Regions from separate parts of the Homo sapiens genome. Here region 1 is linked to region 2. The links come from fine-mapping of genetic effects on gene expression. A gene starts in region 2. The other region holds a variant in brackets. All regions are shown on one strand. Distances are between the middles of the regions. Region 1 has its middle 33 kb from the start of CALM3. Region 2 holds the start of CALM3 (calmodulin 3).

Evidence for each region. PIP is the estimated chance that this variant, and not a neighbour inherited with it, causes the effect. A credible set is the group of variants that fine-mapping cannot tell apart.
Region 1: its variant is the best candidate, but not a certain one, in a credible set for the expression of CALM3 in whole blood (TOPMed, PIP 0.56).

Annotation. Positions count from the first base shown.
Region 1 is chr19:46,560,151-46,576,425 of GRCh38, forward strand. It overlaps the pseudogene PPP5D1P. Among named protein-coding and RNA genes, the nearest start is that of CALM3, 33 kb to the right of the region's middle. The variant C/T (reference allele first, on the strand shown) is at 8,309.
Region 2 is chr19:46,597,195-46,609,993 of GRCh38, forward strand. CALM3 (calmodulin 3) reads left to right here and starts at 4,136. Exons shown (of 6, transcript NM_005184.4): 1 at 4,136-4,243; 2 at 8,633-8,663; 3 at 11,003-11,146; 4 at 11,288-11,394; 5 at 11,652-11,787; 6 at 11,931-12,799. The coding sequence starts at 4,241. The coding sequence ends at 11,959. LOC124904729 (a long non-coding RNA gene) reads right to left here and starts at 11,966. Exons shown (of 2, transcript XR_007067276.1): 1 at 11,904-11,966; 2 at 10,630-11,811. It also overlaps the pseudogene PPP5D1P. RefSeq lists enhancers at 3,401-3,900, 5,629-5,698 and a silencer at 4,031-4,170.

The sequences.
Region 1 (16,275 bases), 35 kb before region 2:
TCTGATAAAAATAAATAAATAAATAGGCCGGGCGCGGTGGCTCACGTCTGTAATCCCAGCACTTTGGAAGGCCGAGTCGAGCGGATCACGAGGTCAGAAGATCAAGACCATCCTGGCTAACACGGTGAAACCCTGTCTGTACTAGAAATACAAAAAATTAGCCGGGTGTGGTGGTGGGCCCCTGTAGTCCCAGCTACTAGGGAGGCTGAGGCAGGAGAATGGCATGAACCCGGGAGGCGGAGCTTGCAGTGAGCCGAGATTGTGCCACTGCACTCCAGCCTGGGTGACAGAGCGAGACTCCGTCCCAAAATAAATAAATAAATAAATAAATAAATAAATAAATAAATAAATATTTTTTAAAAAAACAGACTCCTATTTACATAGAACAAAATGAAACTGATGAAGGAAATCTGCTTGTGGTTATTTTTAATATTATTGAGAATTGCTTTACAAATGTTCTTTCTTTTTATGCGCATAGGAAGAAGCTCTTTTCCTTTCTTCGTGACCCACTGCCAACTCTCAATTTAACATTTATACTTGAGGAAATTGGAATGAAAGCCTCTCAGTAGTATTTTTCCATCTGACTCTTCCAAATTCTGGAAAATATATCCTGTGTCAAATCTCAATATAAATTATAAACTGTCCGGGTGCAGTGGCTCACACCTGTAATCCTAACACTTTGGAAGGCAGGGGTAGGATGATGTCTTGAGCCCAGGAGTTTAAGACCAGCCTGGGTAATACAGCGAGACCCCATCTCTACAAAAAATAATTTTTAAAAAATATTAGCCAGGCGAGGTGGCACACACCTGTAGTCCCAGCTCAGGAGGCTGAGGTGGGAAGAGTGCCTGAGCCCAGGAAATAGAAGTTACAGTGAGCCATGATTGCACCACTGAACTCCAGCCTGGGTAACAGACCAAGACTGTCTCAAAAAAAAAAAAAAATTGTAAGCTAACAAATCATCAGAGACTGAAATATTATAATAATTCTAATCAGAATGCAGATGAATGCATTTATGATGGGTAAGGCTTAGAAAAATTATAACTGCTCCTTAGCAAAGAACATTGGTTGTGCTTGAATTTTATGGTTATAATGTATCAATAAATAACTGAACCATATTTATATATATTATATCTGGAAAGATCCATAATGATTCTGATAAAAATATGAAAAACATCAACTGACTAAGTAGTCGGTGCAACTACTTAGAATAATGGGTAGATATTATTACAAATAACTTCATCCTTTCTGACAATGCAGAATAACTTCATCCATCCTGACAATGTAGCATTTTCATGAGTTTAATATGCATTGGCTCCCATTGTTGCAAGGATATAGACAAATCAAATGTACTACCAAGGCTATACTGACAATATCGTATGTGAGAATAAAGCCAGTTAATCTAGTCAGAAAAGCCCACCATTATGGAACAAAGGCTGATGTGTAGAACTTCATTTGTAGAACCAGATCCTACAAGCCCTCCCAGGAAATTAAACCAGTATATATGCTGTGGTTTACAGGATCTCAGTCCAGACTTAAAGGATCTTGAAGGAGGAAGAATTCACCCATAAAAGTAGGCAGCAGGGTGTGGTGGCTCACGCCTGTAATCCCAGCACTTTCGAAGGCGATCACCTGAAGTCAGGAGTTTGAGACTAGCCTGGCCGCATGGTGAAACCCCGTCTCTACCAAAAAATACAAAAATTACCTGGGGGTGGTGACACATGCCTGTGATCCCAGCTCCTCGAGAGCCCAAGGTGTGAGACTCGCTTGAACCCAGGAGGCGGATGTTGCAGTGAACCAAGATTGCGCCACTACACTCCACCTCCAGGTGACAGAGGGAGACTCCGTCTCAAAAAAAAAAGTAGGCAGTAAAAGAAAGTTCTATTCGTTCCAGACTAATAGAGTCCAGTCCAAATATACAACTCTAGATTCCTTACATAATATCCAGACAGAAGCTAATTCTCTGGTTTTAGCAGTGCTCACCACCACATAATTCTAGATTTACTAACCATACAACAAGGAGGCCTCTGTGTGCAATTAACACCTCTTGTTTTATCTATGTAAGTTTACCAAGCCAAATAGGACAGAGCCTACGCTATATAAAGGTACAATTCAGAGACCACATGAAATAGCCACCACTGAGTCTGTGTACTAATATAAATGATATACAAACATTATTGATCATTGGGATTGGGAATATATGCCACAAACTAAGCTCCAATTTGTTTTCTATTTCCCGTAACATTTGTGAGTTATCCGATATTTTAATTAAGAATAGTACAAACCAGAATCAGACCAACCCCTTATTTTATCAATAGCTACCTTTAGAGATAACATGATTTCAGGAGCTCTGTGCAGGAAACTTATTCAACACTTGGAAAATAAGACTTAAAAATGATTTTCGTCTGGCGCAGTGGCTCATATCTGTAATCCCAGCACTTTGGGAGCCGAAGCAGGTGGATCACCTGAGGTCAGGAGTTTGAGACCAGCCTGGCCAACATTTCAAAACCCCGTCTCTACTAAAAATACAAAAATTAGCTGAGCATGGTGGCGGGCGCCTGTAATCCCAGCTACTCGGGAGGCCTGAGACAGGAGAATGGTGTGAACCCGGGAGGCGGAGCTTGCAGTGAGCCGAGATTGTGCCACTGCAGCCTGGGCGACAGAGCGAGACTCTGTCTCAAAAAAAAAAAAACACAAATGGAAGGAAGGCTGGGGCTGGGGTTGTGGGGCCCACCCCGTGTACACTCCACGTGGCCCAGCTGAGAGCTCCTCAGGTTGACTCAGAGCACAGGCAGACAACAGGTATCCTAATTTGCTTCCAACACCAAGGCCCTGGCGTATTTCAGAAAACCTCGGAAACAAACCCTAAATGCTCAGCATTTGGAGGCACTAAAAACATGCACAAAACACACAAGCATTGAGTGATTTATTTGCCATGATCTCTTGCTGCTGTTCAGATCCAAGAGACCTCAGGGAGAAGGGCTGAGCAGGCAGGGGTGTCCATCCGGCCACCGCCTCTCCCTTTCCTCTTGAGGGCTCTGGGGGGTGTTGGACTCACATGAATAATCCCAGATCTGAGGACGCTGACACTGTCACTGATGGGACAGAAAGCAGTCACGAGACCAAGTCTGGGCTCTCCTGGGGCTTCCGGTCTACTAGGATAAGTGGAAACTAAATAAACAACTAGAAATGCAATCATTTCATGGAGCAAAAACACATGCTACCAGGAAAGTCCAACTAGGTGATGTGGTGGAAAGTGACTGCAGGAGGACTCTGCTTTAGGTAGCAGGGCTGGGGAAGTTGGTGACACCTGGCAGGAAGGAATACAAAGGAATACAAAGGAGGTAGCCATGGTGGGCAAGGGGAGTGACAAGAGGAGAGGCCCAGGCATGGAGAAGAGAAGAGAAAGTGAAAGTGCAGAGATTTTTGTTTGTTTGTTTTTTGTTTTTTGAGACGGAGTCTTGCTCTGTCTCCCAGGCTGGAGTACAGTGGTGCAATCTCAGCTCACTGCAACCTCTGCCTCCCAGGTTCAAGCAATTCTCCAGCCTTAGCCTCCCAAGTAGCTGGGATTACGGGTGCACGCCACCATGACTAATTTTCGTATTTTTTGTAGAGACGGGGTTTCACCATGTTGGCCAGGCTGGTCTCCAACTCCTGACCTCAGGTGATCCACCTGTCTCGGCCTCCCAAAGTGCTGGGATTACAGGTGTGAGCCACCACACCCGGCCAGTACAGAGCTCTTTAGTGAAGAAATTGGAGGACTTGAGGATCTGAGAGAGGCCAGAGGACAGCCCCCAGTGAGCAAGACTCAGTGAGTTCTCAACTTGAGGCAGGAAGAGATCAAGATATAGAGGCTCCTATTTTATTTCATGCATAAGACAGAGCCTTGGAGAGTCTTCAACAGGGGTGACAAGACCTGGATTGTGCTTTTTTTTTTTTTTTTTTTGTAGAGTCTCACTCTGTCACCCAGGCTGGAGTTTAGTGGTGCAATCTCGGCTCACTGCAACCTCTGCTTCCCGGGTTCAAGCAATTCTCCTGCCTAAGCCTCCCAAGTAGCTGGAATTACAGGTGTGCACCACCACACCCAGCTAATTTTTTTGTATTTTTTGTAGAGACAGGGTCTCACTGTGTTGCCCAGGCTGGTCTCAAACTCGTGAACTGAAGCGATCCACCTGCCTCTGCCTCCCAAAGTGCTGGGATTACAGGCATGAGCCATCATGCCCAGCTGGATTGTGCCTTATAAAAGTCCCTTTGGCTGAATGTAGAGAGAAAATTTGAGGAAAGCAGGGGTGGAAATGAGTGGCCAGATTAGAAGGCTGTTTGCTCAAGCAGGAGAGAGAGCATCGTGGCTTGGGTGAGGGTAGGGGGAGAGGGAGGTAGATTCAGATTTGGGATTGATTTTGGAGGCATGACTAACCTGTGTTCTCACGAAAATGGATTTGTCCCCAGAGCAACTACAAGTCTATGTGACATCAAGGTTCATAAGACAGGAGAATCACCAAGGGAAAAATAGGGCCCCAACCAATAAGACAAAAGGAATAGATGTAAGGAGAATTGGAACAGGGCCCTAAGATCTAGAAGTGCTGGTGTTGGAGGTCAACAGAGTGTCATTCACTTTGTCAGCCAGCATTTCCACCCCTCTGGTTTGGTGTCAGTGTTTATCTGCTGGCTTTCTGCTTCATTCTTAGTCATCAGCACCCTCCTTTGTACCACCAGGCTAGAAGCCTGCAAACTATATTGCCCAGCTTCCCTTGTGAGATGGCTTCCCAATAGGTTCTGCTTGCAGGAAGCACCACTTCTCAATTCTTTCTGCTTCTAGGAGGGCCTCTGGCCACAGCCAAAGAGGTGAACAAGGTCCCAGTTCCCACTGGTCATGAATTTGTAATGTGTCAATTTCATTAAGCTGAAGGAGGTTTCCCACAAGCCTTTCCCTATGCAGCTGAAAGTTAGCATGGGCCCCAGGAGACAACGTGCATGAATGTGGAAGGCAGAAGGGAAGCAGAAGCCACATGCTTTTGTGTTGGGCAGGTGGGTGCAGGCCCAGGCACTGTGGCTGTCATGCACGTTGTTTGCACCTTGAGGCTCTCCCTGGGGATGTGAGGCAGCAGCCAGGCCCCTACCTCTCCCAGCTCCCACAGGATCCTCCTGCAGGTACACATTTAACTCCAAATCAAAGAGCAGTGACTTCTCCTGGAAGACATCCGCTCATGAAAATTGGAGTCCTGGAGACTGTGAGGGTCCCGTCTGTCTACATGGCTTCCCACTGATCCTCTCAGTTCGTCTTCCCTGGCTTCCCCACTTTGTATCCCATCTTCCCTTCCCAATACCTGCCCTGCTGACTTCAGGCTGTACCAGCAGATGCAGAGAGATCACCCTTACATAGATGGCTCAACCAGCTTATGCAATGCATATGGTCAAATCCCTATCACCCATCCCTTATGAATTGTGATATTCAGCTTCCTATATCCATTTACCTAGATGATATGGTTTGGCTGTGTCCCCACCCAAATCTTGTCTCCGAATTGTAGCTCCCATAATTCCCATGTGTTGTGGAGGGACCTGGTGGGAGATAATTGAATCATGAGGATGGTTCCCCCGTACTGTTCTGTAGTAGTGAATACGTCTCATGAGAGCTGATGATTTTATAAGGGTTTCCCCTTTCACTTGATTCTCATTCTCTCTTGCCTGCCACCAGGTAAGACGTGACTTTTCCCTTCTGCCATGATTGTGAGGCCTCCCCAGCCATGTGGAACTGTAAGTCCATTAAACATCTTTTCCTTTATAAATTACCCAGTCTTGGGTATGTCTTTATCAGTAATTTGATCAAACACTAGTATCCAGTTATTTGATCAAACACTAACCTAGGTGTTGCTATGAAAGTATTTTGTACATGTGACTGACATCTACTATCAGTTGACTTTAAGTAAATTATCCTAGATAATCTGGGTGAGCCTGATCCAATCAGTTGAAAGGCCTTTGGGGGAGCAGAACTGAGGTTTCCCTGAGGAAGAAGGAATTTTGCTTTTGAATGACATCAACTCCTGCCTGAGAGTTTCCAGCCTGCCCTGTGGATCTTGGACTTACCTAGCCAGCCCCTAAAATGGCAGAAGCCCATTCATTTGCAATAAGTAAATACATAAATACATAAATACATGTACACATATATGCATACATATATACATGTATGTATATATATGTGTATGTGCATATATCTTAGTCTGTTTTGCTTTGCTATCAAAAAAATACCTGGGCTGGGCGCGGTGGCTCACGCCTGTAATCCCAGCACTTTGGGAGGCTGAGGTGGGTGGATCACAAGGTCAAGAGATCGAGACCATCCTGGTGAACATGGTGAAACCCTGTGTCTACTAAAAATACAAAAAACAAATTAGCTGGGCATGGTGGCGTGTGCCTGTAGTCCCAGCTACTCAGGAGGCTGAGGCAGGAGAATGGCTTGAACCTGGGAGGCGGAGGTTGCAGTGAGCCGAGATTGCGCCACTGCACTCCAGCCTGGCGACACGGCGAGACTCCATCTCAAAAAAAAAAAAAAAGAACCAATCTGAGCCTGGGTACTGGGTAATTCATAAAGAAAAGAGGTTTATTTGACTCACCAGTCTGCAGTGTGAGGGCCACAGGCTTCTTCCACTCATGGCAGAAGTGGAAGGGTAGCTGGCATGTCCAAATCACATGGCAAGAGAATGAGCAAGAGAATGGGAAGATGCCAGTCTCTTTTTAATAACCAGCTCCCAGGGGAACTCTTGCAGGTGCTAATAGAGAGATAACTCACTCACTACCAAGAGGCTGACACCAAACCAATTGTGAGAAATTCACCTCCATGACCCAGACACCTCCCATTAGGTCCCACCCCTGACATTGGGGATCAAAATGCAACATGAGGTTTGGAGAGTCAAATATCCAAACTCCAGCAGCATATATGTGTATTTATATGCATACGTGTATATATCATATCTATATCTCCTACTGGTTCTGTTCTTCTGGAGAACCAGGACTGATACCTGGATACGTATATGCATATCCACATCTTACTCCTCATCATTCTCTTTCTCTGGCTGACACCTGGCTGGTACTTTGCTCTCCCAGAGCAAACCCAGAGAAGATATTTTATTTTGCTGGTATTTCACTTTCCTACTTGCTCTTGAGCATCTGTCTTTTAAAAGCTTATATGAGAACTAACAACTCTTGTTCATGCATTCCTGCATTTATTCCACAAATCTTTTTTTTTTTTTTTTTGAGATTGGGTCTCACTGTGTCACCCAGGCTGGAGTGCAGTGGTGCAATCTTGGCTCACTGCAACCTCTGCCTCCCAGGCTCAAGTGATCCTCCTGCCTCTGCTTCCTAAGTAGCTGGGACTATAGGCACATGACATCAGGCCCGCTAATTTTTGCATTTTTTGTAGAGGTGGAGTTTCACCACGTTGTCCAGGCTGGTCTCAAACTCCTGGGCTCAGGTGATCTGCCTGCCTTGACCTCCCAAAGTGCTGGGATTATAGGCATGAGCCATTCTGCCTGGCCTACTCCACGAACTTTTGAACGCCATGCACAAACATACTCTGTGCTGTGCTGTCTGATGACACACAGGTTACAATACTGATAATGGTCCCTACCCTCACAGACATCACTGTCCAGTGATGGGGGAAAGAGAGGGAGTGGGGAGAAGAATATTTATTAGTTATGTATTAGTTATCTACTGCCATATAACAAGTGTATTAGTTATCTACTGCCACATAAGAAATTACACCAGGCCAGGCATTGCGGCACATGCCTGTAATCTTGGCACTTTGGGAGGCCGAGGCAGGAGGATCACTTGAGCCCAGGATGCCGAGGCTGCAGTGAGCCATGATCGTACCACTGCACGCCAGCCCAGGCAACAGAGTAAGACACTGACTCAAAAAGACAAAAACAAAGGCAAAACAAAAATTACACCAACATGTATTGGCTTAAAACAAGAAACATTTACGATGTCACAATTTCCAGCAGTCAGGAATCTGGGTGAGGGTAACTGGGTGGCTTTGGCTGTAGGTTCCTCAAGGCTAGAGTCAAGGGGCTGGCTGGAGCTGCAGGCATCTCAGGGTGGAAAATCTGCCTCCAGACTCACTCATGGCAGTGGGCAGCCCTCAGGTCCTTGCTGGCTGTTGGCTGGAGGCATCAGTTCCTTGCCCCATGAGCCTCTCCCCAGGCAGTTCCCATAATGGAAGCCCCTTCCATAGAGCAAGCAAGGCAAGGTGGGGAGGACCAGCAGGACATAAACCAGTCTTCCAGTAACCTGTACCGGGAGTGACATCACATCACTTCTG[C/T]CATATGCTGTTTGTTAGAAGCTTGTCACTATGCCCAATCTACACACAAAGGGGTATAGGTCCCAGAAGGGCATGAATACCACGAGGCTGGACCACTGCAGGTCATCCTACCATAAGTAAACATGTTAAGATGTTAAGATAATAAATATGACCATGGCTCCACCTGGTGGGAAACAATGGCAAACAGAGTGACGAGGTAGAAAGTTCTAGTTTTAACAGTTTTTTTTTTTTTTTAAAGACCAAGTCTCGCTCTGTCACCCAGGCTGGAGTGCAGTGGTGTGATCTTGATCTTGGCTCACTGCAACCTCCACCTCCCAGGTTCAAGTGATTCTCCTGCCTCAGCCTCCCGAGTAGCTGGGATCACAGGCCTGCACCACCACACCCAGCTAGTTTTGTATTTTTAGTAGAGACAGGGTTTCGCCATGTTGGCCAGGCTGGTCTCCAACTCCTGGCCTCAAGTGATCCGCCCACCTCGGCCTCCCAGTGTGCTGGGATTACAGGCGTGAGCCACCACTCCTGGCCTTAGTTTGAACAGTTTCTGACTTCATAGTTGTGTTGCCAGATAAAGCAAGGTCACTCACATTTATCATGACCAAGTGAGATTTATCCCAGGGATGCAAGGATGGTTCAACATATGCAAATCAGTCAATGTGATACATCATATCAATACAATGAGGGAAAAAAACCATATGATCATTTCAATTGATGCTGACAAAGCCTTTAATAGAATTCAACATCCCTTCATGATAAAAACCCTCAAAAAATTGGGTATAGAAGGAACATACCTCAACATAATAAAAGTCATGTATGACAGACATACAGCTAGAATCATACTGAATGGAGAAAAACTGAAAGCCTTTCCTCTAAGATCTGGAGCAAGACAAGGATGCCCACTTCCCCCACTGTTCTTCAACGTAGTAGTGGAAGTCCTAGCTACAGCAATCAGAAAAGAGAAAGAAATAAAGGGCATCCAGGTTGGAAAGGAAGAAGTCAAATTATCCTTATTCGCAGATAATATGATCTTATATTTGGAAAAGCCTAAGGGCAAAAGATCAGAATAGACATTTTTCAGAAGACACACAAATGGCAAACAGGTATATGAAAAGGTACTCAACATCAACATCATTGACCATCAGAAAAATGTGAATCAAAACTACAACGAGATATCACCTCACCCCAGTCACAATGGCTTTTATCCAAAATATGTAATAACAAATGCTGGCGAGGATGTGGAGAAACGGGAACCCTCATACACTGTTGGTGGGAATGTAAATTAGTACAGACACTCTGGAGAACAGTATGGAGGTTCTTCAAAAAACTACAAAGAGAACTACCATATGATCTAGCAATCCCATGCTGTGTATATACCCAAAAGGAAGGAAGTCAGTGTATCCAAGAGATACCTGCACCCCCATGTTTGTTGCAGCACAGTTCACCACAGCCAAGATTTGGAAGCAAGCTGAGTGTCCACCAACAGACATATGGATAAAGAAAATGTGGTACCTATGCACAATGGGTACTGTTTTGTTGTCGTTGTTGTTATTGTTGTTATTGTTTTTGAGACAGAGTCTCACCCTGTTGCCCAGGCTGGAGTGCAATGGCACGACCTCGGCTCACTGCAACCTCCGCCTCCTGGGTTCAAGTGATTCTCCTGCCTCAGCCTCTGGAGTAGCTGAGATTACAGGCGCACACCACCACGCCCAGCTGATTTTTTCTTGTATCTTTGGCAGAGATGGGGTTTCACCATGTTGGGGCAGGCTGGTCTCAAACTCCTGACCTCAGGTGATCCTCCCACCTCAGCCTCCCAAAGTGCTGGGATTACAGGTGTGAACCACCATGCCTGGCCACAATGGGATACTTTTCAACCATAACAAAGATTGAGATCCTGTCATTTGCAACAACATGGAGGGAACCAGAGATCATTATGTTGAGTAAAATCAGCCAGGCATGGAAAAATAAATGTCCCATCTTCTCACTCATTTGTGGGAGCTAAACATTAAAACAATTGAGTTCATGGAGACGGAGAGTAGAAGAATGGTTACCAGGGACTGGGAAGGGTAGTGGAGCAGGGGGAAGTGGGGATGGTTCGTAGTTATAACAATGCAGTTAAATAGAATGAATAAGTTCTAGTATTTGATAGCACAACAGGGTGACTACAGTCAACAATACATTTTAGGGCCGGGCGCAGTGGCTCACACCTGTAATCACAGCACTTTGGGAGGCCGAGGCGGTGGATCACCTGAGGTCAGGAGTTCGAGACCATCCTGGCCAACATGGTGAAACCCTCTCTCTACTGAAAATACAAAAACTAGCCAGGTGTGGTGGCACACACCTGTAATCCCACCTACTCAGGAGGCTGAAGCAGGAGGATCGCTTGAACCCAGGAGGCAGAGGTTGCAGTGAGCCGAGATTGCACCACTGCACTCCAGCCTGGGTGACAGAGCAAGACTCTGTCTAAAAAAAAAAAAGAAAAAAACAAACCCATACTTTACTGTACATTTTAAATAACTAAAAGAGTATATTTGGGGTGTATGTAATACAAAGAAATTGTACATGCTTGAGGGGATACCCCATTTACCCTAATGTGATAATTACACATTGCATGCCTGTATCAAAATATCTCACGTATCCCATAAATGTATACACTTACTCTGTACCCGTAAAAACATTTTGGGCTGGGCATGGTGGCGCACGCCTGTAATCCTAGCACTTTGGGAGGCCAAGGCGGGTGGATCATGAGGTCAGGAGATCGAGACCATCCTGGCTAACACGGTGAAACCCCATCTCTACTAAAAATACAAAAAATTAGCCGGGCTTGGTGGCGGGTGCCTGTGGTCCCAGCTACTTGGGAGGCTGAGGAGGAGAATGGCATGAACCCGGGGGGCGGAGCTTGCAGTGAGCTGAGATGGCGCCACTGCACTCCAGCCTGGGCAACGGAGCGAGACTCCATCTCAGAAAAAAAAAATTTTTTTTCAAAAAGAATTTTTTATAAAAACATGTCACCCAGTTAAATTTGAATTTCAGATAAACAACAAATACTTTTTTAGTATGAGTATATCCCATGCAACATTTTGGATATATTTATTTAAAAACACCTCATTGTTTATCTGAACTTTAAATTTAACTTGGCTTTCTATCTTTTTAGTTGCTCAGTGTGGCCACCTTCCTCCAGGGCAGCACAGGGCTCAGGAGTGGAGGAGCCAGGCTAGGGACTATGGTACCAAAACCAGCCAGCAGGTTAGAGGTGAGGACGCAATGATGACAAACTCCTGGAGAGGGAGACATGGAGGCAGGATCAGCAAAATGTCGGGGAAGAGGACTGAGCTTTTTTTTTTTTCTTTCTTTTGAGACAGAGTCTCCCTCTGTCGCCCAGGCTGGAATGCAGTGGCACGATCTCGGCTCACTGTAACCTCCACCTCCCAGGTTCAAGTGATTCTTCTGCCTCAGACTCCCGAGTACCTGGGACTACGGGTAAGCGCCACCACACCTGGCTAATTTTTGTATTTTTAGTAGAGGCAGGGTTTCACCATATTGGCCAGGCTGGTCTCGAACTCCTGACCTCATGATCTGTCCACCTCGGCCTCCCAAAGTGCTGGGATTAAAGGTGTGAGCCACCGTGTCCGGCCCTGAGCTTCTTTTTAAACCCATAATAAACCACATATTTAATGTCTTTACATTATTGCTGCCTGAGTCCCCCCCATGAGAAGGAAAACTCCACAAAAAAACAGGGACTGCTGTCTGATTTGTTCATTGCTGTGTTCCCAGTACCTAGAAGATGACTTGGCACCTAGCAGGCGCTCAAGAAATGTTGTCTGAAGGCCAGGCGTGGTGGCTTATGCCTGTCATCCTACCACTTTAGAAGGCCAAGGTGGGCGGATCACCTGAGGTTGGGAGCTCAAGACCAGCCTGGCCAACATGGCAAAACCCCGTCTCTACTAAAAATACAAAAATCAGCTGAGCATGGTGGCGGGCATCTGTAATCTCAACTAATCAGAAGGCTGAGGCAGGAGAATTACTTGAACGCTGAAGGTGGAGGTGGCAGTGAGCCGAGATCCTGCCACTGCACTCCAGCCTGCGAGACAGAGCAAGACTCCATCAGAAAGAAAGAAAGAAAGAAAGAAAGAAAGAAAGAAAGAAAGAAAGAAAGAAAGAAAGAAAGAAAGAGAGAGAGAGAGAGAGAGAGAGGAAGGAAGGAAGGAAGAAAGAGAAAGAAAGAAAGAGAGAAGGAAAGAAAGAAGGAAAGAAGGAAGGAAAGAAGGAGAAAGAAAGAAAGGAGGAAAGAAGGAAGGAAGGAAAGAAGGAAGGAAGCAAGGAAGGAAGGAAGAAATGTTGGCTGAAGAAATGAATCTTTGAGTTGCTTAAAGAATCTCAGCTCTCTGGCTCAGGAGTCAAGGATGAGAGGAGGACAGGAGGAGATGAGTCTGCTGGGAGAGACAGAGGAGTCATCCCTGGGATGGGGATGTGAGAGGAACAGGACTGGTGGGGGAAGATGCTGAGATCAACTTGGACACGGTGAGTGGAAAGTACCCAGCAGACATCTGGAGAGAGACATTCAGGAATCCCTTGTCTAGCCAAGCCTGGAGCTCAGAGAGAGAACTGGCGTGGTAGACAGAAAAATGCCCCCTCCAAGGATATCCACGTTCTAATCCCTAGACTTGTGAACAGCTTTGCTACTTGGCAAAATGGACTGTGCAGGTGTAATTAAGCTAAGGCTGTTGATATGGGGTGATTATCCTAGCGTACCTGGGTGGGCCATTATAAACACAATCCTCACAAACACAATGCTCTTTATAAGCGTTATGGGTTGAGTGGTGTTTCCCAAAAAGATATGCTGAAGCCCTCTTTCCCAGTCCCTCAGAATGTGACCTCATTTGGAAACAGGGTTGTTGCAGATATGATTAATTAAATGAACATAAAGTCATGGCCAGGTGCAGTGGCTCAGGCCTGTAAACCCAGCACTTCAGGAGATCGATGGTAGAGGATAGCCTGAGTGCAGGAGTTCTAGACCAGCCTGAGCAACATAGCAAGACCCCCTCTCTACCAAAAAAAAAAAAAATTTTTTTTTTTTTGACAGAGTTTCACTCTTGTTGTCCAGGCTAGAGTGCAATGGCACGATCTCTGCTCACTTCAACCTCCACCTCCTGGGTTCAAGTGATTCTCCAGCCTCAGTCTCCCAAGTAGCTGGGATTACAGGCGCCCGCCACCACTCCCATCTAATTTTTGTATTTTTAATACAGACAAGGTTTCATCATGTTGGCCAGGCTGGTCTTGAACTTCTGACCTCAGTGAGCTGCCCGCCTTGGCCTCCTGGGATTACAGGCATAAGCCACGGTGTCTGGCCTCTACAAAAAAAAATTTTTTTTAATTAGCTGAGCGTGGTGGCACACACCTGCAGTCCTAGCTACTTGGGAGGCTAAAGCAGAAGGATTATTTAAAACCAGGAGTTTGAGGCTGCAGTGAGCTATGATTGCACCACTGCACTCCAGGCTGGATGGCAGAGCGAAACCCTGTCTCAAAAACAAACAAACAAAAAAAATTCAAGGTGTTGGCAAGGCCATACTCCCTCTGAAACCTATGCCCTTATCTCTCCATTCAGGTTTCCCATTTATACCTTTGGAATTTGTAGTTATTGATTTCCACACAATTGCAACCAAGGCTGAATGGGGCCCCGGGCTCCAGCCACAGGGCTGGGCATGACAGCCACACTGGAAGTCATCAGCACAGAGACAATGCTGGGAACATCCCTGAGAAGTGGGAGCTCCTGACTGCCCACACAAGCAACAGATGTCAGCCTTGGGCTTTTGTCCTTCAAGCTCAAGTCATCTCTCTGACCGTTTCTTGCCAGCCTCCCCAGGCACCTCCTCTTCCCTCCCCTGAGCATGATCCGTGGCTGCCCTGTGCCCAGGCCCTCTTGCCATCTTCACCTGTTCTCCCCGATCTCATTCATTCTCACCACTTCTGTCTCTCATTCCTTTCCCTCCCTGTGCATCTCTGTCCTCAGCCCCAGTGTGTTCAGGTCTTCTTGCTGCTGTAATGAATGACTACAGGCTAAGTGGCTTAAACAATACAAATTTGCTCTCTTGCAGTTCTGAGGGGTAGAAGTCTAGCACGGGTCGCACTGGGTTAAAATCAAAGATGTGCTCCTTCTGGAGGCTCTAGGGCAGGAATCCCCAACCCCCACGCCACACACTGTGATGTGGTTTGGCTCTGTGTCTCCACCCAAATCTCATGTCAAATTGTAATCTCCACATGCCTGGGGGAGGGACCTGGTGGGAGGTAATTGGATCATGGGCGCGGTTTCCCCCACGCTGTTCTCATGATAGTGAATGAGTTATCATGAGATCTGATGGTTTAAAAGTGTGTGACAGGCCGGGCTCAGGGGCTCACGTCCATAATCCCAGCACTTTGGGAGGCCGAGGCAGGCAGATCACCCGAGGACAGGAGTTCAACACCAGCCTGGCCAACGTGGTGAACCCCTGTCTCTACTAAAATACAAAAATTAGCCAGGCATGGTAGCTGGCGCCTGTAATCCCAGCTATTCAGAAGGCTGAGGCAGGAGAATTGCTTGAACACAGGAGGTAAGGTTGCAATGAGCTGAGATCGTGCCACTGCACTCCAGCCTGGGTGACAGAGCCAGACTCCTCAAAAAAAAAAAAAAGTACATATATATATATATATATATATATATATATATATATATATATGATATTATATATGAGATACATATTTTATATATATGATATATATGATATTGGGAGGCCAGGCACAGTGGCTCATGCCTGTAATCCCAGCACTTTGGGAGACTGAGGCAGGTGAATCACCTGAGGTCAGAAGTTCGAGATCAGCCTGGCCAACATGGCGAAATCCTGTCTCTACTAAAAATTCAAAAACGTAGTTAGGTGTGGTGGTGTGTGCCTGTAACCCCCACTACTTGGAAGGCTGAGGGTACAAGAATTGCTTGAACCCAGGAAGCGGAGGTTGGAGTGAGCCAAGATCACACCACTGCACTCCACCCTGGCAACAAAATGAGACCCTTTTTCTTTGAAAATAACTTAGAAATTAGCTATGCAAAGTGGTGCAGGCCTGTAGTCCCAGCTACTTGGGAGGCTGAACAAGAGGATGGCTTGAGCCCAGAAATTCGAGGCTGCGGTGACCTGGGATCACACTACAGCCTGGGTGAGGGTGAGACCCCATCCCTTTAAAAAAAAAAAAGAAAGAAAGAAAGAAATTAAAAACAGCCAGGTGCAGTGGCTCACACCTGTAATTTCAACAGGTTGGAAAGCAGAGGCAGAACCACATGATGGGACCTTGTCTCTACAAAAAATTAAAAAAAAAAAAAAAAAGATTGGGTGGCTTAAACAACAGACATTTATTTTTTCACAGTTCTGGAGGCTGGGGAGTCCAAGATGAAGGTGCCAGCAGATTCAGTTGTTGGTGAGGCCTTGCTTCCTGACTTGCAAGCAGACGCCTTTTTGCTGTGCCTTCCCATGGCCTTTCCCCAGTGTGTGCACGTGGAGAACGTGAGCTCTGGTTTCTCTTCCTCTTGTTTTTTTTCTTTCTTTCTTTTTGAGATGGAGTCTTGCTCCATAGCCCAGGCTGAAGTGCAGTGGCGTGATCTCGGCTCACTGCAACCTCTGCCTCCAGGGTTCAAGCGATTCTCCTGCCTCAGCCTCCCAAGTAGCTGGGATTACAGGCACCCGCCACCATGCCTGGTTAATTTTTTTGTATTTAGTAGAGATGGGCTTTCACCAGGCTGGCCAGGCTGGCCAGGCTGGTCTCAAACTCCTGGGCTCAAGTGATCCACCTGCCTCAGCCTCCCAAATGTTGGGATTACAGGGTGAGCCACCACTCCCAGCCTCTCTTCCTCTTCCTATAAGGGTACTAATCCTATCATGGGGGTCCCAGCCTCCTGACCTGATCTAAATCTAATTACCTCCAAAGTTCCCTGCCTCCAAATAATATCACAC
Region 2 (12,799 bases):
GCCTGCTTCAGCCTCCCAAAGTGCTGGGATTATAGGTGTGGGCCACCGTGCCTGGCCCCCTTTTTTCCTTTCTTACTGTCTTCCTTTGTGGTTAAGTGATTTTCTCTGGTAGTACGTTTTAACTTGCTACTTTTTATTTTTATTGAATCTATTATAGGTTTTTGCATTGTGGTTACCTTGAGGCTTCTAAAAAAAATCTTATAACAAGTTATTTTAAAGCGATAACATCTTAGATCACAAAGAAAAAAATAGAAACAATGAATAAAAACTCCACACTTTATCTCCTTCCCTCCCACATTTTGACTTTTTGTTTCCTCAATTTACATATTTTTATTTTGCTTGTCTTTTAACAAGCTGCTATAGCTATTATTGTTTTAATTATGGGGTCTTACTGTGTTGCTCAGACTGGCCTCAAACTCCTAGGTTCAAGTGATCCTCCTGCCTCAGCCTCCCAAGTAGCTGAGACTACACCCAGCTCAATATTATTGTTTTTGATAGATTTGTCTTTGAGGCTTTATGGTAGAGTTAAGAATGAATTGCATACCACAATTACAGTATTGGAGTATCCTGGGTTTCTCTGTGCACCTAATTTTACCAATGGGTTTTATACCTTCAAATATTTTCTTTGGCCAGGAATGATGGCTCACACCTGTAATCCCAACACTTTAGGAGGCCAATGGGGGAAGACTGCTTGAGCTCAGGAATTCGAGACCAGCCTGGGCAACATGGCAAAACCCCATCTCTACCAGAAAGAAAATACAAAAATTAGCCAGGCATGGTGGTGTGCACCTGTAGTCCCAGCTACTCAGGAGGCTGAGGTGGGAGGATCACTGGAGCCTGGCAGTTTGAGGCTGCAGTAAGCTATGATTGGGCCACTGCACTCCATCCTGGGTGATAGAGCAAGATCGTGTCTCAAAAAAAATTTTTTTTCTTTTTGCATGGTTTTTTTTTTTTCCGGATTGAGGAACTCTCTGGAACTGTCTTTCTTCAAGAGAGCATTTCTTATAATACAGATCTGGTAGTGGTGAATTCTCTCTGCTTTTATTTGGGAAAAACTTTATCTCTTCTTCATATTTGAATAATAGCTTTGCTTGATACAGTATTCTTGTATGGCCTTCATGGTTTTGATTGAGAAGTCTGTGGCCAGGTAAATTAGAGCTCTTTTAAGTGTTATTTCCTTCTTTTCTCTTACTGTTTCTAGGATCCTCTCTTTGTTCTTGACCTTTGAGAGTTTGATTATTATATGCCTTGGGGTAATCAAATCTATTTGGTGTTCTCTGGCCTTTCTGTACCTGGATATTTGCAATTTTTGAATGTCTTCCATTGTTTCTTTGAATATCCTTTCTATCCCCTTGCTCCTCCTCAGCTCCCTCTTGAACACCAATAATTCTTAGATTTTGTCTTCTATATTTCGTAGGTGATTTCCATTCCTTTCATTCTTTTTTCTTTTTTCTTCTGTATGTATTTACAAACAGCCCGTCTCCAAGTTCACTGATTGTTTCCTCTGCTTGACCCACTCTGCTGTTGAGAACCTCTAATGAACTTTTCAGTTCAGCAAATGTATTTCTCAGTTCTAAGATTTGTTTGGGTTTTTTTTAAATTATTATTTCAATCTCTTTGTTAAATTTCACTGATAAATTTCTGCGTTGCTTTTCTATGTCGTCTTGGAATTCACTGAGTTTCCTTAAAAATGCCATTTTGAATTCTTAGAAAGCTCACATATTACTGTCTTGTTAGGTTTAGTCACTGGTCCCTTACTTGGTCCATTTGGGGAGCTCATGGTTCCCTGTTTGCTTTGGTTTGTTGTTAATGTACATCTATGCCTTTGCACTGAAGGATTAGTCACTTATTCCAGCCTTCTCCGTCTGGCTTGTTTTGGCTTTTACTGGCTCCATTTGCTTACAGATTCTTCGTAATTGACCTGTTGGTTTCTTTTTTTCTGCTAGGTTGCTGCCTCCTTTTTAGCACTCAGTGGCACCTTAAAACCAGGTTTGCCTTGGCTCTATTAAAGATCAGAGCGTCTCCCATCCCGAATGGGGGAGGTCCCAAAGGGGATATCCCAGTAGCATAGGAAAGCTGGCTAGGGGTTCATTCCCAGGGGAGCTATGGAAGAAACCTCCCACAGCATGGTGCTAACGAACAGCCACTCTGATTTGGCATCTCCTTTGGCCAAGTTATAGAGTAGAGAGAGTTTCCAGGGCTGGGGATGGTAGTCCCACCTCCCCACTTTGTCTGTGGCTATTCTCAGAGGATATTTCTCCCTTGAGGCACTCCTGATGGTTGTATTCTTGTGATTACAGCACTTTGGGAGGCCAAGGCAGGCGGATCACTTGAGCTCAAGAGTTTGAGACCAGCCTGGCCAACATGGTGAAACCCTGTCTTTACTAAAAATACAAAAATTAGCCAAGTGTAGTGGTGGGTGCCTGTAGTCCCAACTACTTGGGAGGCTGAGGCAGGAGAATCGCTTAAACCTGGGAGGCGGAGGTTGTAGTGAGCCAAGATCATGCCACTGCACTCTAGCCTATGTGACAGAGCAAGACTCCGTCTCAAAAAAAATACAGATCTTGTGTGAACTAACAGAATAAGAACTCACTTGTTACCGTGAGGACAGCACCAAGTCATTCATGAGGGATCCACCCCTATGACCCAAACACCTCCCACCAGGCCCCACCTCCAACATTGGTGATCACATTTTAACATGAGATTTGAGACTGAGTAACAAGTGTTAGGATTAAAGGCATGAGCCACCGCGCCCGGCCATCTTCTTTACCTCTCCACTGTGTCAGTTTTATTTTTCTCTTCTTCTCTAGACACTTTGTTCCTCAAGATAGGGGGCAGAGTGGGAAAATGACCATAGTCAGAATCTATGGGAAGGACCCACCCAAAAGGAAAAGGCTTCTTGTGCCCAGGCTGCAGATCCAAACCCCAGGGAAGGACTCTCATTGGTTCAGTCTCCATTCTGTTCCAGGTGGAGCATAATGATTGGTCCAGCCTGACTCGTTTGCCCATCTCTTAACCATCAACATGGTGGGGAGGGGACACGCAGGAGACTGTCAGCTCCTATCCTAAACGGGGGAGGGGGCAGGGGTGATCATTTTCTGAGCTCCTATAAACAAAGTTTCAGTTCTTTTTCCTCCTATGGCTGGAACACTGGAATAAGGAAAGAGGTCGTCTGTCTGGAGAGGCTGGTTGGGGAGTATGGTCTCCCCAGCCCAGCCAAGCTCAGGTCCCTGCATACAGCAGGCGCCTAATTGATGCTTATAGCACGAATGACTGAATGAATACCCCGTTCCCACAGGCTGTCCTGGGATGGTCCTAATTTCACAGACCCTGAGCGGATCAAGAATGAAGCGGGCCCAGGGGTCCCGCCCACCGGCTGAGTGCGTCTTAGGACGCAGAGACAAGACCACGGAGGGCGGAACCTCTGAGCGTTAGGTGGCACCTTGGAGACCCCGCCACCTCCAAAGGCCCAGTTAGGGGCGGAGCTTCTAAACCCTAGCATTTTGGATTGAACCATCGTCCGTCGGTTAAAGGGGAGAGCCGAGAAAGCCCTTCTGCATTTGTCGCCAGCCTTTTTACCACCTCCTGGCCACAGAAACGACGTATTTGCTTCTCTAACGGCGACGCCGTTTCCCCCTTCGCCTCGTTACTCCTCAAAGCCCCACGCGGCCACAGAGTTCAGACTTACCCACCACCACCTTGCAGTGGCTCGCCCCAGTTTGACGCATTGCAGGGAAGGTCGGACCAATGGGCGCCAAGCTCTCATTTCCGCCATGGGCCAGGCCCAATAGTGACGCGGCTCACAGAGGGACGCGTCACGCACCGCCGAGCTGTGCCCCTCCGCCGAAGAAAGTGAAGTGGGCCCGGGAGGCGGGGCGCGCGGCGAGGGAAAGTAGTCCGGCGACGGGAGCGAGCGCGCGCGCGCCCGGCGGCAAACCCAATTCCTGTGCAGGGTGGGGACGAGAGATTCGCGGGCCCGTAGGTGTGGAGCGGGGCGCGGAGGGATCCGTGGGAGCCGCAGTGCGGCGGCGCGCGGGCCGGGTGGGGCGGGGCCGAGCGAGGCGGGGCGCGCGCGGCGGCCGTTGAGGGACCGTTGGGGCGGGAGGCGGCGGCGGCGGCGGCGCGCGCTGCGGGCAGTGAGTGTGGAGGCGCGGACGCGCGGCGGAGCTGGAACTGCTGCAGCTGCTGCCGCCGCCGGAGGAACCTTGATCCCCGTGCTCCGGACACCCCGGGCCTCGCCATGGTGAGTGAGGCTGGGGGGTCGCCGAGGCTGCGGGCTCTGAGGCGGGCTTAACGGGGCAGGACCCCTGAGGGGGCGACAGAGCCCAGAGTGGGGGGCGTCCGGGCCCGGCGAGAGCCTCGGGACCCTTTTCTACCCGCGTTGTCGGGGGCTGTTGAACCCAGAGCGGGACGTCTGGATCACCAGAGGTTTCCAGAAGCGACTTTAGCACCAAATGGGATGTTTAAGTCCACAAATGGGTATCTGAGCCCCTAAAGGGGACATTTGAACCCCGGATGGAGGATCGGGACCCTCAGTGGGACCCCTCAAAAGGATTTTGGACCCAGGATGGGGCGTTGGGTTTCAGGATGGAGGTGTTTGGACCCCAGGGGACGAAATAAGAAAGATGGGCTGGGGAGGGGAGCTATTCGGGCCCTGATGAAGGCGTTTGGTCCTGAGAGGATGCGGGGAACGGGGGACGAAGGGAGGCTGGGCTGCTCCTGGATGGGGTGGTGGAGGGTAGCTGGGCCCGGGCGGGGAGGGGCGACCCCTGGGCTCCTGTGGAGCAGAGGAGAGGGTCAAGGATGGGCGGTCACTTCTACAGATGAGACTCCCGAGGGTGGGGGAGGGTGGGGGAGGGTGGTCTCCAGAGCCCAGCACTGCAGAGGAGGAGGAGGGTGAGGTGCAAGCTTATGGGAGGAAGAGCCTGGGGTGGGTGGCAGCGGAGATTAGAAGATACTCTTGAAGGCTTCCGGGACGGAGAAGGATCAGGGTCGTGGAGGTGGTGAAAAGGGATGGTGAGAGTGGGGCTCGCCAGTAGTCGGGGGACAGGGACCCTTGGGGTTAATTTGGAAGTAGCTAGAAAAGGTTCCGAGGTTACTAGTGGGTTAAGACTGTTGCTCTAGAAAGACAGAATTTTTTTAACGGGGTGGGAGTGTTGTGTTTGGGTCCAAGAGAAGATGGATTTCCAAGGTGAGGGGTGGGGGAGGACTTGGGCTTGGGTGGTTGGGAGGTGAGGTGGAAGGAGAAAATGAATGGCAGTCAGGGGGGCCTAGGTTTGGGGGTGGATGTGGGTAGCACCCTGCCAGTCTCCAGGGACAGGCCAGGACAAAGACGGCTCAGTGTGGATGGGGAGTGGGCTGCAGGGCCCGGAGGAAGCTTTTCTACCGTCCTCCTTCCTCAGGAAGAACGCGGCTGGGTGGAAGACACCGGGGCAGTGGGAGCAGGTGGGCGGAGCTGTTCGGGCCCCTATTGCGCACTGAAGCCTCATGAAATGGGGATGGGAGATCAAAGTTTGGGGTGCCTCGAATGAGCCAGCTTTTTCAAGCCTAGAAGCCTCACTCTGTCGCTGCCCTTTTCAGGCCAAGAGCACTGCCTTTTCCCAGCAGGAGCGCCGGTTTTCTCATGATCCCCAGCCCCACGCACCATGCTGCACCTCGTCACTTGTGCCAAATGACAGTGCAGTACAGTGTGGCGTCAGTGACAATCAGATGCCTATTCCCGTGCCCTCGGGGTGGGGGCTGCAGAGCTTGATCAGAGAGTGCCTCTGGGGAGACCCCTTGATCGGCCTGAGGGCCACTTGTTCCATTCAGGGCCCTCGCTGAGCGTGTCTGTTAATTCACAGGGCTTTGAGAGAAAACCAGCAGACTAGTTCTTTCCTACTCCCTGCCACCCACAACACCCACAGCCCCACCAGGCTGAGCCTGGGAACCGTGTGCAGCCATCCTCCCTGGCAAGGCTGGGGAGAACAGGCAGCCGCTGCTGTGTATCAGATCTCATACTTGCTGACACAGACCTGATGGCTCCTCTTGCCGCTACCCCATTTTCCCCCAGCAGAACCTGGCTAAAAGGGGCCCTGAAGCACTAGCAGGCCCCCTACCTCCAGAATAGGACCCAAGCTTTGGCCACAACTAGTTTCTCTTTCTGTTTGTAATCAGCAAGGTAGAGGTGGGACAAGTCACTGGTAACTGGCCTTGGACTTTGGCCTGAGCTCTGTGGCTCCTCCTTGGCCCGGGTGAGGGGCCCTGGCCTTGGTTTCTGATCTCATCTAACACTGCTCTCTGGCATTGGCTGGGGGCTGGGGCAAGGCAGAGAAATCACACCCTCTTCCCTCCCCCACCTCATGGTTTTTTTTCTTGTCCAGCCCCTTGCTGGAGCCTAAGATGAGGGATAAGGAAGCAGGAGACCAGCTGAGTTATTTTGGAAACAGTTTTTGTTGAAAGTTTAGTCTTCAGGTCTAGAAAGGGAAGAAACCTTGAGCAAGGATCAATGATATCTTCTTAGGCGGTCGGTTTTCTGGGCGGCAACCTTGCTTGAGATCTGTACCTTTCCTTGACCAAGCAGGGAAGTGGGTCTCCAACATGGGAGGGAGAGCATCTGACAGGCCCTCCATGCAGAGCCACGCCTATTTGCAGCAACCCTGTGACAGAACTGAACATGGCAGTGCCTCATCTGCATCTTCCAGTCTTTTGGTGGAGACTGGCAAACGGTGGCCTTCAGAGCCGCTCGGGGCAGTCTGCAGCCTGTCACAGCCTCCTCGCCCCCACCCCCAGCCCCTTACAGTGCTGCCCAAAGGTCCGGGGAGCTGGACTTCTTGCAGGGCGGAACAGTGGGCTGGGAAGGCCCTGACCTGGCTCGCTTTTTCCATTCTAGGCCAGGGGAAAGAATGAAAAGCAGATGGGATGGCAGCCACCTCCCCACACTGCTGCCCTCCTCTCTGTTCTTTCCCTGACCCTCCCTGGGCATTGCCTGGTCTCGGTAACCAGAAGCCCATCCTCCCTTCTCACTTTCCCTAAGCCTCTTCCTCAGGTGTCAGGACCTAAGGGATGGCTCCAGGCTTTTTTGTCCATGGTGGGAGGTGGGGGGCAGGTGGATCAAGAGGCTCATGGGCCTGGGGCTACCAGGTTGGCATTTAGAAGCCCAACCACCCTGTCTTTTTTGAAGGCAATGCAGAAGAATCTTCATTTGGCCTCCCCACCTCCCCTTTACACTTTGGACTTTTCCAGAATGTGCATGTGTGCCGTTTTCTCCCTTCCTCTTTCCCCCTCCCTAAGCCCTCTCCCCTCTGTGATCATCATTTTGATTACCCCTCCCATTCTGCCTATTTGGGGCTTGCAAGTTCTTCTTCCGTTAGGTTTTTTTTTTTTTTTTCTAACTTTTTTAGATCAGTGATTGTTAATATTTGGGACGGGGATGGGGGTAGGGGAGGCAGGCAGTGGTTTGTTCCTAGCTTCTGGAACCTCTCCGTAGAATACTGCAAATTCACATAATAGTCTGCTTCTATTTCTGAGGCTCTCAGACTCGAGACTAGAACATGCTATAGACTTGGAGCCCCTTTCCCTGATTGTGAAAGGAAGGGGAACAGACCCACCATGGTCCCGGGATGGTGGTGCCTTCTTCACAGCATCAACAAAAACCAGGGAAAATGTGTCTTTTGGCTGCTAAAGCTAAATGTTGGGATTCAGCCTCCCCAACCCCCCAGCCCCGCTCCTGCCCCATAGGATCACTATGCCTGGCTGATGCCCAGCACACCAGTGCAGGAGAAGCCAGTCCCCGCATCTCCTCCCCACCCCCAAACCCCGCATGCAGCAAGGGCTGCCTGCCACCCACTGGCCAGTCCCCAGAGTGCCCAAGCTGGAAAGGGTTAAAAACTGCAGTGCAAGCCAGCTTCAGTCCTCTGCTGCTGCCCGCTGCAGCCCTCTCCCTGACGTTTGTCCCTTCTGCCCAAAAGAAACAAAACAGAATGGCCCTGTGCCCTCACTGTGCGCAGGGGGTGGAGCGCCTGCCTCCAGCCTGACCAGAGTTCTTTAGGTGCTTGAGCAACTCGGGCCGCCGGTTAGGAGAATTTTTGCCACTTGGGTGGACTCTGCCTGAGCCAACCGCCTCCAAATAGGTGACACAGAAACTAGCAGAGATAGCCCCAGACATCGTCCCTCTGCCCTACCCAAGGACTGGCCTGCTTCAGTTTGGAGCCTTCTAGAGCTTCTTGATGAGGCCTCCAGGGCAATCGTTCCCTTCACTCGGCCTCTGGGGCTCTCACTGATGAGATGCAAACCTGTGCCAGGCCTCACCAGCGCTGCTGGTTTGGGGCTGGGGCAGGCTTTTCTCCCGCCCCTGTGGCTCCCACATGCTGAGTTGAGATTGGAAGCCCGTGGGTCTGGGCAGCTTCATCGGGCCGTGCGTCCAGCAGGCCTGAGTGTCCAGCCCACCCTGGTACCCAGCTTTCTGAATCACCAGACTTTATCATCAGGCGCTGGCTCTGCCTCAGACCCTGACTCTGGCATGCTCCTCCCTGGCCCGGCGGGAATGGCACGTGGAGCTGGCCTCACTGGGGCCGAGGGTCTGGGCTGAGTGAGGAAGATGCGTCCGTGCTGTCCGGCCTGGTGACTGACTTTCCCCTTCATGCTTTTACAGGCTGACCAGCTGACTGAGGAGCAGATTGCAGGTGAGTCTGCTATCCCCCTCATCTTAGCTCAGGAAAGCCTCCACATCCCCAGCCAAATCTTAGCCACTGAGGAGTGACATCTGATGGGTGAACCTGTGTATCCCTTGTGTCACCTAACACTATGCCTTGTGCCTAGAATGCTGATAAATGTGTGTAAGAGCACACCAGTGCCCCAATGACACGAAGCCCCATGGCCCTGAGACAGGCCTTTACCAGACACCAAAGGCTGTGTTCCTCTCCTGGGCCTGGGTCATCTAGGGGCTTGATATCAGTGGCTGCAGGACGAGCCCAACTCTCTCTCCCAGCTTCAGCCAGGTTGGCTTAGAAGGTGAGCTCCCTGCCTCCCTGTGGGGCCTGCAGAGCTCCTGTCCCACTTTAGGAGCCGCCCAGGAGCTGGCTCGTCACTCCCACCTCTGCGCTTGCCTGCGCTTTGCACTTCCTTTCGCATGTGCCTGCGCCTGCCTGTTCTGCTGGCGGAAGTGCCTCCCCAGTGCTTTGCATGGGCAGCTCCTTCCCGTCCCTTAGCTCAGATGTCCCCTCGGGGAGGCCTTCCCTGACCCCCATCTCAAGTACACAGCCTTCCTTTACTCTCCTTCACATCACTTTATTTTCTTCATAACCTTTCTCGCTGTCTGAAATTATTTTCTTATGTCTTCACCTGTTGTATCTCCTGTTACTAGATGTGAGTTCCATTGAGTTTGGGACTTGGTTTTGTTGGTCCCTGCTATAGCCTTAATGCCTGCCTAGAACGTAGTAGGTCCTCCGCAAACTTTTGCTGGCTAAACAAACATCTCTCTCTCAGCAAGCTAGAAGAAATCCCTGGATCCCATCTAATTCATTTTTCTAACCCCTCCAAAACCCCAGAAGGGTCAGCTACAGGAACTATTGTGTAATTACAGATCCGTGCCTGCCTACCCGCCCATACTGAGCTGCCCGAGGACAGAGAGCAACTCTTGGTTTATCTCCATAGCCAGGGGCCAGCACACAGTAGACCAGAGTAGCGATCCAGAGAATGGGCCTCTGCTCCCCACCAGCTACCCAGCCCCCAGCTCTGCTGTCAGGTTCAACCGGCTGTGTAACAAGTACTAAAGGCCCAGCTTCTGCGGTGGGAGGCAGGAACGGACTTGCCTTCTCTCCTTTCTCCCCTCAACCCGCATCACAGAGTCACCTTTGCAGCTTCAAAATTTTGGCCCTGGGTGGCTATGGAGACCCCTGAGGAAAGCCAGAAGATGGCCTGGTTTAGTGATCATGAGCTCGGGGTGCCCCATGACCCACTCACTACCTGCCCTCCCCAAGAACAACAAGGCCTCAGCACAGGGAGGTGCCAGCCTCCCCAAAGAGACTCTTGCCATGTCCCCAGGGCCCAGAGGCTCAGGGCCACAGCTTCCCAGCTGTGCATGTCCCTCCCAATGCACCTGCCACCCATCTCCCAACTCTGGCCTTGTGCAACATAAACGGTCTGCTTTTCACCCTGTCCCCATTAGCAAACTGTCCACCGCCTCACCCCAGCCCACACCCTCTGGGAATAGGCTGCCGGACATCTGTTTTTGGAGGGCTTGGGGGTAGAGGAGCACCAGGTGCCAAAATGGGCCCAGTGGGAGGGCAAGAGCCATGTGCTTTTCTCCCTGCCCCTGATGCGGCCCCAGCTGTGGCCTTCCCACTCAGCACTGCTAGCTCCTCATCCTCCTGGCTTGGCAGCCGTCCCCTCGCTTTCCATCCCCCCATCAACCCCACGCACTGTCCGTCAGCCATGTTCTGCTGCCGACCACCCCCACGCTCACCACACGCAGTGGCTCAGCTCCTTTGGAAGCTGGTAGCACCCACGGCAAGGAACAGGGCTGCCAGTCAGAAGGGAGTGGATGCCTGCATTTCCTCTTCAGGCCGGCCAGAGGCATTCTGCAGCCTCCCCTCCTCGTCCCAGCCAGCCAACCCTGGCTAACACACTCAGACAAAGAATCCTTTCGGCTCTCATTCACTCCATGACTTTGGTTCATTTCATCATTTCAAGGGAGAAGTCAAAGCCAGGGACCAAACAGAAATGTAGAATCATCTAAGGACAGCTGTCAGACCATTTTCCCCACTGTCTTCACTGGCTGGCCAGAAAAATAGCTTCACCTAGCACAGTGTTGATGTTCAATAACTGTTGAATGAAGGTTGGAAGGGCTTTGCCCTGAGCACTGAGGAGAGAGAGCTGGTTGCGTGGGACTTGAAGTCTGTCTCAGTTTCTTTAGGTGGGACTGATGCCCTTGGCCTTCCTCCAGGGAAGGCATCCAGCATCCAGAGGTAAGGATTCTCCTGTGGACCTTGTGACCTCTGACTCCTCCCCCTTCTTCCCCCAGAGTTCAAGGAGGCCTTCTCCCTCTTTGACAAGGATGGAGATGGCACTATCACCACCAAGGAGTTGGGGACAGTGATGAGATCCCTGGGACAGAACCCCACTGAAGCAGAGCTGCAGGATATGATCAATGAGGTGGATGCAGATGGTGAGCCCCACAGAGCGCGTGGGCAGCCCTGCTCCTGGTCACCCCGAGTGACTGCAGGGAGCCTCTCTCAGGGTGATGGATGAGCCCGTGTCTCTCAGGGCCCAGGCCAAGAGCATTCTCCATCCTTTCCCCACCTTCCAGGGAACGGGACCATTGACTTCCCGGAGTTCCTGACCATGATGGCCAGAAAGATGAAGGACACAGACAGTGAGGAGGAGATCCGAGAGGCGTTCCGTGTCTTTGACAAGGTAAGCAGCCCTCTCCAGGGGCGGCTCTGAGACTGACGCCAGCCTTCAGGCAGACAGGCGGAACTGGAGCCACGGAGCTACCACTTCCAGGAGGTCCGGGTCCCGGTGCCAGCCTCATTGCCAACCTGCTCTGCCACCTCAGGCAGCCTCCCTCACTGTGCTCACTGCTGAGGGATGGTGATGACAGCCACCCCTCTCACTGCCTCTCTCCCCACCGGGAGAAGTGCCCAGTGAAAGGCTTTATCCCCAACCCCCAGGATGGGAATGGCTACATCAGCGCCGCAGAGCTGCGTCACGTAATGACGAACCTGGGGGAGAAGCTGACCGATGAGGAGGTGGATGAGATGATCAGGGAGGCTGACATCGATGGAGATGGCCAGGTCAATTATGAAGGTGAGTCAAGGCCAGGCTTGATCTCTGGAACAAGAAGAGAATCGCAGCTTCAGGAACAAGCCCCCAGATCCCTCTTGTTGGGGAGGGCCGCTCGCCACTTAGCCTGCCCGCCTGACCTCCTCTCTCTCTGCTTCACTCCACAGAGTTTGTACAGATGATGACTGCAAAGTGAAGGCCCCCCGGGCAGCTGGCGATGCCCGTTCTCTTGATCTCTCTCTTCTCGCGCGCGCACTCTCTCTTCAACACTCCCCTGCGTACCCCGGTTCTAGCAAACACCAATTGATTGACTGAGAATCTGATAAAGCAACAAAAGATTTGTCCCAAGCTGCATGATTGCTCTTTCTCCTTCTTCCCTGAGTCTCTCTCCATGCCCCTCATCTCTTCCTTTTGCCCTCGCCTCTTCCATCCATGTCTTCCAAGGCCTGATGCATTCATAAGTTGAAGCCCTCCCCAGATCCCCTTGGGGAGCCTCTGCCCTCCTCCAGCCCGGATGGCTCTCCTCCATTTTGGTTTGTTTCCTCTTGTTTGTCATCTTATTTTGGGTGCTGGGGTGGCTGCCAGCCCTGTCCCGGGACCTGCTGGGAGGGACAAGAGGCCCTCCCCCAGGCAGAAGAGCATGCCCTTTGCCGTTGCATGCAACCAGCCCTGTGATTCCACGTGCAGATCCCAGCAGCCTGTTGGGGCAGGGGTGCCAAGAGAGGCATTCCAGAAGGACTGAGGGGGCGTTGAGGAATTGTGGCGTTGACTGGATGTGGCCCAGGAGGGGGTCGAGGGGGCCAACTCACAGAAGGGGACTGACAGTGGGCAACACTCACATCCCACTGGCTGCTGTTCTGAAACCATCTGATTGGCTTTCTGAGGTTTGGCTGGGTGGGGACTGCTCATTTGGCCACTCTGCAAATTGGACTTGCCCGCGTTCCTGAAGCGCTCTCGAGCTGTTCTGTAAATACCTGGTGCTAACATCCCATGCCGCTCCCTCCTCACGATGCACCCACCGCCCTGAGGGCCCGTC